Regions from separate parts of the Homo sapiens genome. Here region 2 is linked to region 1. Evidence: fine-mapped expression QTL. Tissue or cell type: testis. Region 1 holds a variant in brackets; the other region holds the start of a gene. All regions are shown on one strand. Distances are from middle to middle.

Region 1 (4,725 bases):
AGATATATTGCACTTCCATTTTCATAATAACACTACTGAAATCAAAAGGTGGAAGCTACCCATTTATCATAGACTGATTAATAGATAAAGTAAGGTATATACTTAATAATGGAATACCATTCAGCCTTAGTAAGGAAAAAAATCCTGTCTCATGCTACAAAATGGGTAAGCCTGGAGGATATTATTCTTAGAGAAATGAGCCAATTACAAAGACAATTACTGCATGATTCTACTTATATGGATTACCTAAAGTAATCTAACTCAGAAACAATGTAAATGGTGGGTCCCTGGGATGGGGCAGGAAAAAATGGGGAGCTGTTCAATGAGTATACAGTTTTAGTCATGCAAGTTCCAGAGATCTGGGATACAACATTGTGCTTATTATTAGTATTGTGATATACGTTTAAAAGAGGGTATTTCATTTTTTACAATAAAAAAGATGGATCCAGATCCAACATCAAGTGAGTGCTCTGTAGCACAGTGCCCTTTCATCTGCTAAGTATTAACTTAAGTGATTTTTATTGCAAACCTAGTGGCTTTCTTTCTTGGAGCATCATTCTTCAGATCTGAGCCCAAGCCTTCTGAAAGGCCAATGAGTCTCTGGGTAGTACAGCAATTAGTCTTACAATGCACTATTTTGTAGCAGCCTCCATCTATTCATTTTTCTCAGGTTTTAAAAAGGGTGAAATACACCTAATAGGTAAAATGTGGCAATTTATACTCGGGCTTAATGGCAATCAATGGGGTAATCATTCTAATCATTTTTAAATGCTTTTCAAAAAAATTCAGAAATGGGCCGGGCTTACGCCTGTAATCTCAGCACTTTGGGAGGCCGAGGTGGGTGGATCCACAGGAGTTCGAGACCATCCTGGGTAATATGGTGAAACCTCATCTTTACTAAAAACACAAAAATTAGCCAGGTGTGGTGGCGCACGTAATTTCAGCTACTAGGGAGGCTGAGGTGCTAGAATCGCTTGAGCCCGGGAGGTGGAAGTTGTAGTGAGCCGAGATCACGCCACACTGCACTCCAGCTGGGGCCACAGAGCTGCCTCAAAAAAAAAAAAAATCAAAAGAAAGAAAAAAATTAAAAATTCAGAATTGAATGTTAACACTCAAGATGTAGTAAGAAAAGTTTTTAACTTTTTAAAAATTAAGGAAACTAAAAGCAAGATACAACTGCTCTAGGCAGCCCTACAATGACCTTATAGCTTTTCTTTGATTTCTGGCTCTAAATGGTACTCATAGAAAGACTGATTAAGTTTTGTTTTTCATTCTGGGGTTAGCTGTCTGTTAAAAGGCCTGTTCTAAGCATCCCTCTTCAGCCCTAAGATTTCATAAGTCTTCTAGGAGTTGCTCTCCCAAATACATTGTCTGTATAAACACCAAAAGGTGGATTAAATTACTTTTTTTTTTTTTTTTTAATTGAGACGGAGTCTTGCTCTGTCACCTAGGCTGGAGTGCAGTGGCGCGATCTCAGCTCACTGCCAACTTCTGCCGCCGGGTTCAAGCCATTCTCCTGCCTCAGCCTCCGGAGTATCTGGGATTACAGGCGCGCGCCACCACGCCCAGCTATTTTTTTTAATATATATATTTTTAGTAGAGACAGGGTTTTGCCATGTTGGCCAAGCTGGTCTCGAATTCCTGACCTGGGGTGATCCGCCCGCCTCGGCCTCCCAAAATACTGGGATTACAGGCGTGAGCCAACGCGCCCGGCCAGATTAAATTATACTCTATCCCCAGGTTTTACAAATAGCTCTGGGAGAGACCTGAACCTCACTAGGTGGCAGCTGATTGGAGGTGAGGCAGTGGGGAGGAAATGCCTTCGCCCAGGCTCCGCCCCTGGCCCCACCTATCCTGCCCTGCCAGCCACTCCCATTCTCACCGATTACCGCGCCAACAAAGTGGCTCTTCAAAGCAAAACACAGCGGCAGTTCCTCGTGACCAGCGGCCACGGCCTCCGGGGGCCTAGAGGTGCCTCTCCAGCGACCACCTCTGCCGACACTATATCCCTCAGGACCTGTTCGATTCAACTCCTCCGCCGGCCTCCTCTCTGGCGCTCGGGACACTGTCGAGCTTCGCCGACTAGCAACGACCCACGTAGAGGCCTTGGGAGCTCCTCCGTGGTGGGACATTGTTCCAAGAAGGGGCGCGTCCGACGTCGTTGCCGTCCAGCTCTGCACCACCTGACCGTGACGTCGTAAGAGTAGCGTGCCAGGGAAGCCACGCAGCCGCTACTTAAGGAGCCCGCACGAGGCTAGCCCCCCCGCCCACGCTCTCTATCCCGCCCACTTCGCACTGATTTCACGCAGCCATTGGCCAGTGAGCGTTGTGGGCGGGACTTTCCCAGTTTTAGCCAATCGGTTTTCTGAACCGTGGGAGTGTGCCTTGAAGTAGTCGATGTGCCCCGCCCCCCACCCCCCCACTGTGTATTCCTTTCCAGGCGTGGGACTTTTTCCAAACG[C/A]CCAATTTGCTCCCTCCCCTACTGGACACACACCTCGGGTTCCTGGCATCTCAGTGCCTTGGAAACTTTTTTTTTTCTTTTTAAATAGAGACGGGGTGTCGCCGTGTTGCCCAGGCAGGTCTTGAACTCTTGGCTTCTGGCTTCAAGTGATCTTCCAGCCTCGGCCTCCCAAAGTGCTGGGATTACAGTCAGCCACTGCACCGGAAATGTTTTCAACCGTGACCCATAAAGGTAAGTCACTGTTACAAGGTGACCCAATCCACACATAAAAAACTTGAAACAACAGATTGACAAAACAGCATTTATCCTCGCTATGTAAGCTGCATTTTGATACATTTACGCTTATTTTAGTTTTTGAAATGGTTGTAATCCACAAAATTAAAAAAAAAAAATTTAATAGAGATGGGAGTTCCCAGTATGTTGCCCAAGGCTGGTCTTGAACTCCTGGACTCAAGTGATCCTCCCACCTCCACCTCCCATAGTGCTGGGGTTACAGGCCTGAGCCACTGCACTCGGCTCACAAAATGTATTTAATGGCCCACAGCTTAAAGATCACTGACTTGATCCTTTTGTAAGTCATAAGTGTGATTGGGTTTTCATGCTCTTGTGTCAAATGTGCCTCCCTCAAACCTTGTTACGAAGTGGGCACACTACCCACCTGATGTGAAAAATGAAGAGAAAAAGATCACTGGCTTGAGAGACATTCATTGCTCTACACAGTCTTCTGGATGTTTGCTATGTTTTTTTTGTTTGTTTTCTTTTGTTTTGTTTTTGACCTCTGTCGCCTAGGCTGGAGTGCAGTGGTGCGATCACTCACTGCAGATTCGACCTGTTGGACTCAAGTGATACTCCCACCACAGCCTCCCGAATAGTTGGGACTACAGGTGTGCACCACCATGCCAGGCTAATTATTTTGTAAAGACAAGACCTCCCTATGTTGCCCGGGCTGGTATCCAACTCCTCCTGCCTTGGCCTCACACAGTTGAGGGATTACAGGTATGAGCCACAGTGCCTGGCCTGCCATAATTTTAGAGCTAAGGAAATAAATTGAATAGATTCCTGAAGCATTACCGTCACTGCAGCCTGGCTCTGTGGCTGGACATACTACTACTCCAGGGCTTCAAGCCAGCTGCAAGTGCACTCCTTTGATTAGGATCTTTGAATTATCTGAACAAATTTCAGTTTAGGCCAGCAGGGATAACTCATACCTGTAATCTCAACACTTTAGGAGGCCTAGGCGGAGGATCTCTTGAGCCCCAAGGTTCAACATCAGTCTGGGTAACATAGTGAGACCCTGCCGGGTGTGGTGGTACAGGCTGTAGTCCCAGCTACTCAGGAGGCTGAGGTGGGAGGATCACTGAGCCAGGGAGGTTGAGGCTACAGTGAGCCGAAGTGCCGAAATGGTGTCACTGCACTCCAGTCTGGGCAACAGAGCAGAGACCCTGTCTCAAAAAAAAAAAATTTTTTTTTTTTCAGTTCAATCATCCATCAAACACAGTGGACACCAGGCCAGGCATGGTGTGGCTCATGGCTGTAATCCCAGCACCTTGGGAATGTGAGGCAGGCAGATCACTTGAGGTCTGGAGCTCGTGACCAGCCTGGTCAACATGGTGAAACCCCATCTCTAATAAAAATGCAAAAAATATTGGCTGGATGTGGTGGCTCATGCCTGTAATCCCAGCACTTTGGGAGGCAGAGGCGGCTGGATCACAAGGTCAAGAGATCGAGACCATCCTGGCCAACATGGTAAAACCCCATCTCTACTAAAAATACAAAAATTAGCTGGGCGTGGTGGTGTGCGCCTGTAGTCCCAGCTACTTGGGAGGCTGAGGCAGAATAATTGCTTGAACCCGGGAGGCAGAGGTTGCAGTGAGCCAAGATTGTGCCACTGCACTTCAGCCTGATGACAGAGCGAGAGACTCCATCTCAAAAAAAAAAAAAAAAAAAAAAAAAAAAAGATTACCTAGGAAATAGGCCAGGCGCGGTGGCTCACACCTGTAATCTCAGCACCTTGGGAGGTTGAGGTGGGTAGATCATCTGAGGTCAGGAGTTCAAGACCAGCCTGACCAACGTGGTGAAACCCCATCTCTACTAAATACAAAAAATTAGCCAGGCATGGTGGCGAATGTCTGTAATCCCAGCTACTTGAGAAGCTGAGGTGAGAGAATTGCTTGAACCTGGGAGGCAGAAGTTGGCAGTGAGCCAAGATTGCGCCATTGCACTCCAGCCTGGGCAACAAGAGTGAAATTCCATCTCAAAAAAAA
Region 2 (4,000 bases), 25 kb after region 1:
CACGAGCCACAATATCTGGCCTTGATTAGGTTAAGGGGTTTTTGTTTGTTTTTTGAGATGGAGTCTCACTCTGTAGCCCAGGCTGGAGTGTAGTGGTGCCATTTTGGCTCACTGCAACCTCTGCCTCTGGGGTTCAAGCAATTCTCCTGCCTCATCCTTTCGAGTAGCTGGGATTGCAGGTAACCACCACACACTGGCCAAATTTTTTTATTTTTATTTTTTTTTATTTTTGAGACAGAGTTTTGCTCTTGTTGTCCAGGCTGGAGTGCAATGGTGTGATCTTGGCTCACGACAACCTCCGCCTCCTGGGTTCAAGTGATTCTCCTGCCTCAGCCTCCTGAGTAGCTGGGATTATAGGCATGCACCACCATGTCCGGCTAATCTTTTGTATTTTTAGTACAGACTAGGTTTCTCCATGTTGGTCAGGCTGGTCTCGAACTCCCGACCTCAGGTGATCTGCCCGCCTCAGCCTCCCAAAGTGCTGGGATTACAGGCATGAGTGACCGTGTCTGGCCCACACCCATCTAATTTTTGTATTTTTAGTAGAGACCGGTTTTCTCCATGTTGGTCAGGCTGGTCTCAAACTCCTGACCTCAAGTGATCCTCCTGCCTTGGCCTCCCGAAGTGCTGGGATTATAGGCATGAGCCACCTTGCCTGGCCAGGTTAAGGTTTTAAATGTTTATTGCATCAGAGCCATAGCTAAATCTTGTTTTCCTGTAAGTATGCCCTGCACACCTGATAGTCAAGTTTTCTCAGAAACCATTGAGGGTGAGAGGGGGTGGGATCAGGGGCAGAAAACTGGAACCTCCACACAGTCCTAGATGATCATGTGGAGTCTGGAACATGCTTTTCACTATTTTGAGTTTTTTCTTCTATGCTGGCTGTGGTGGCTCACGCCTGTAATCCCAGCACTTTGGGAGGCCAAAGTGAGAGGACTGCTTGAGCCTAGGAGTTCAAAACCAGCCTGGCAACATAGTGGGACCCTGTCTCTACAAACAGACAAACAACAACAACAACAAAAAGAGCTGGAAAATAGCTGGGTGTGGTGGCAGGTGCCTGTGGTCTCAGCTACTCAGGAGGCTGAGATGGGAGGGTCGCTTAGGCCTGGGAGGTCGAGGCTTCAGTGAACCGAGATCGTGCCACTGCATTCCAGCCTAGGCAAGAGAGTGAGACCTATCTCAGAAAAATAGAAGTTTTAAAACAAACACATAGTTAATTGTAAGAACGAAATAGTATATTCAGCAGATACTATTCTGAAACAACCAAACAATATTTCTACAAATATAGTAGAAAATGTGTAAGGACATGCATGGGGATGATATATACACACTAGCTTCAGGATGATTTCCTCTGGAGAAGGAAAGGAAAGATGCTTGAGTAATATCTGTTTTAAAAACAGAGGAGTGAGGCAAATGTGGGGAAATGTCAACATCTGTTAAACTCGGGGAGGGTACATGGCCGTGTTATATTACTTTTTTGGATGTGTGAAACCTTTCATAATCCAAATTTTTAATTAAAATTACAAACATTGGGAAAAAATGTCCATCGATAATGGTTGTCTTAGGATACTGGAAATAAAGGAAAATTGTCTAACTTGCTACATGTTCTATAAGACCACCTCTGACGTGTTGTTTAAAACATGACACACTTGCTTGAATGATTTAAAAATGGTAACCATCCGGAGAGTCAGAAGATAACAACAGGGAGCAGAACAGAGAAAACTGACACATTGAACAAGCCTGCCCTGGGTCCGATATACCTATCTTTGGGAGGCAACGATGAAACCTTAACCTAGCCAGCAAAGGTGATTCCCAGTCTATTAATAGAGTCGTCAATTCAAACTCACACTGTTAATCAGCTATAAGGTGGGCAGAGGACTTTCAGGCTAAGCATACCTTACGAGCAGAGATGACGAAGGAGAGCATTGGAGACCCAACAGGAGGCCAAATGAATACTAGTTCAAGGTCAAAGAGGCAATCCCGGCGATTGAAGCAGCGCAGGAAGTGTCCAATGGTGCCGCTATGCCGGGGCGTCGCTTGCACCCGCTCACCCCGACGCGGTGCGAGGCGCCGCCGGAAGGGGCGGAGCGGGTCGAATATGGTAAAAGAGAGCCCGAGCTTCGCGCCTGGGTCTGGAAGAGGTCTTGCGAAAGCCGCCTCGAGCGCGCTCCGCGGCTGCTGGTCCCAGTATGGTCGATGATGCTGGTGCCGCTGAGTCCCAGCGGGGCAAACAGACTCCGGCCCACTCCCTGGAGCAGCTGCGTAGGTTACCACTTCCGCCGCCACAGATTCGCATCCGGCCCTGGTGGTTTCCGGTGCAGGAACTGAGAGACCCTTTGGTGTTCTACCTAGAGGCATGGCTGGCAGACGAGCTCTTTGGTGAGCGACCCCAGGTGTGCTAGTGGGCTGTCCACCTCCAGTCTGAGAGAGGCTTGGCAGAGCAGCTCTCTACAGTCTCTTTCCCAGATTCGCAAGCCAGGAGTGTTGCAGTGATGCCCACCTTCCAGTTCTTCCCTTCCCTGGCCAACATTCCCTTCAAATCCAGCTTCTAACCTGCCACCGTGCAGCCCCTCAGAGTTTTTCCTTACTTGTTTAGGCCCAGACCGAGCCATAATTCCAGAAATGGAGTGGACGAGCCAGGCCCTGCTGACAGTGGACATAGTGGACTCAGGGAACCTAGTCGAAATCACCGTTTTCGGGCGGCCCCGTGTACAGAATCGGGTGAAGAGCATGCTCCTGTGCCTGGCATGGTTTCACCGAGAACATCGTGCCCGAGGTGAGGGTCTTTGAGAACCTGCATGTGGAGGAAGCCACGAGTGACCATACTGGCCTTGCTCGGTTTCCTTCCATCCTCCCTTAACCTTCTCAAAATTTCTTGGTTTCCAGACCCCAGGGAGCTAGCTGTACGAAGTTTGTTGGGAGGGGATCCTGGGGTAGGACCTTGGGAAAGTCAGCAGAGATCTGATAGATTCAGACCCATCACTGCCCAAGTCAGCCTCACCTGGGTTACAGCACTATCGCAGATCTTTCTCTCCTCCCCAACTCCCAGTCACGGAGTAGTTCGAAACAGCAAACACTTGTCCCTGTCCATGGTTAGTATCAACTGCTTCTCTTCCAGCTGAGAAGATGAAACACCTTGAGAAGAACTTGAAGGCCCATGCATCAGACCCCCACTCTCCCCAGGATCCTGTTGCTTAAGACAACATAGTTACTGTTGGGAACATCTTAACTTTCTAACTTTTGCTGCTAAAGTTGAAGAAAAGCAAGTATAGCATTCTTAAATCCCCGTATTCCTTTTTCCTGTGTCTTGATGGATTGTGGTTTATTTTGTTGCAAGAGTGAGTTTGAACTATTCTAATAAAGAAATGGCTATTTTGCCAAAAGCATTAAGATCTTCACACACTTATAATAAAGCAAATTTATAAAAGATTGACTCCCACTCATGTTTTGATATGAAGGGTGGGCAGGTGATAGTTTTGTAGGTTTTTGTTTTTGTTTTTTTTTCCTGAATTCCCATCATTTTGAAACTCCTAATCCTTTTATGATTTTCTGGTCAGAGAGAGGCCCTCACCCACAGGGAGCGGATATGCAGGGGCAGATAACCTCACAAATGGTGATCTGTTTTGTTTTTACATAATTGGTCCTCAAACTTTAAAGCTTGTAAGAAATCACCTTGGGAGCTTGTTAAAACACAATTTCCTTGGCTCCTTCTCCAGAGAATTCTGATTCAGTACTTTTGGGGTGGGGCTTAAAATTTCATTTCTGATGAGCTCACACATACTACTAAAGCAGCTTATCTGAGGCTCTCACTTTGAAGCTGGTAATTGATCCCCCGAAGAGCACCAGCTGTGCGTTTTCCTGGAGTGGGGCATCCATTGGGCAGAGGATGACGTTGCAAGAAGCAAGCCTGGGCGGTCAGCGTTCATTAATGGTAGTTTTCGATTTACCACGGAAGAGCAGGGTTCCCAGGCACCTTGGCTCGTGGATGGCGCCCTGCCTT

Evidence for each region. PIP is the estimated chance that this variant, and not a neighbour inherited with it, causes the effect.
Region 2: OOEP starts here. The variant in region 1 is fine-mapped to the expression of OOEP in testis (GTEx, PIP above 0.99).

Annotation. Positions count from the first base shown.
Region 1 is chr6:73,392,313-73,397,037 of GRCh38, reverse strand. It overlaps DDX43 (DEAD-box helicase 43), which reads right to left and starts at 2,210. Exons shown (of 17, transcript NM_018665.3): 1 at 1,883-2,210. The coding sequence starts at 2,132. LOC124901538 (small nucleolar RNA U13) reads left to right here and starts at 3,025; the gene lies at 3,025-3,125. It also overlaps a transcript of OOEP not described here. RefSeq lists an enhancer at 2,093-2,593. The variant C/A (reference allele first, on the strand shown) is at 2,462.
Region 2 is chr6:73,367,982-73,371,981 of GRCh38, reverse strand. OOEP (oocyte expressed protein) reads left to right here and starts at 2,085. Exons shown (of 3, transcript NM_001080507.3): 1 at 2,085-2,379; 2 at 2,597-2,776; 3 at 3,119-3,427. The coding sequence starts at 2,190. The coding sequence ends at 3,198. It overlaps OOEP-AS1 (OOEP antisense RNA 1), which reads right to left and starts at 2,278. Exons shown (of 2, transcript NR_174946.1): 1 at 1,897-2,278.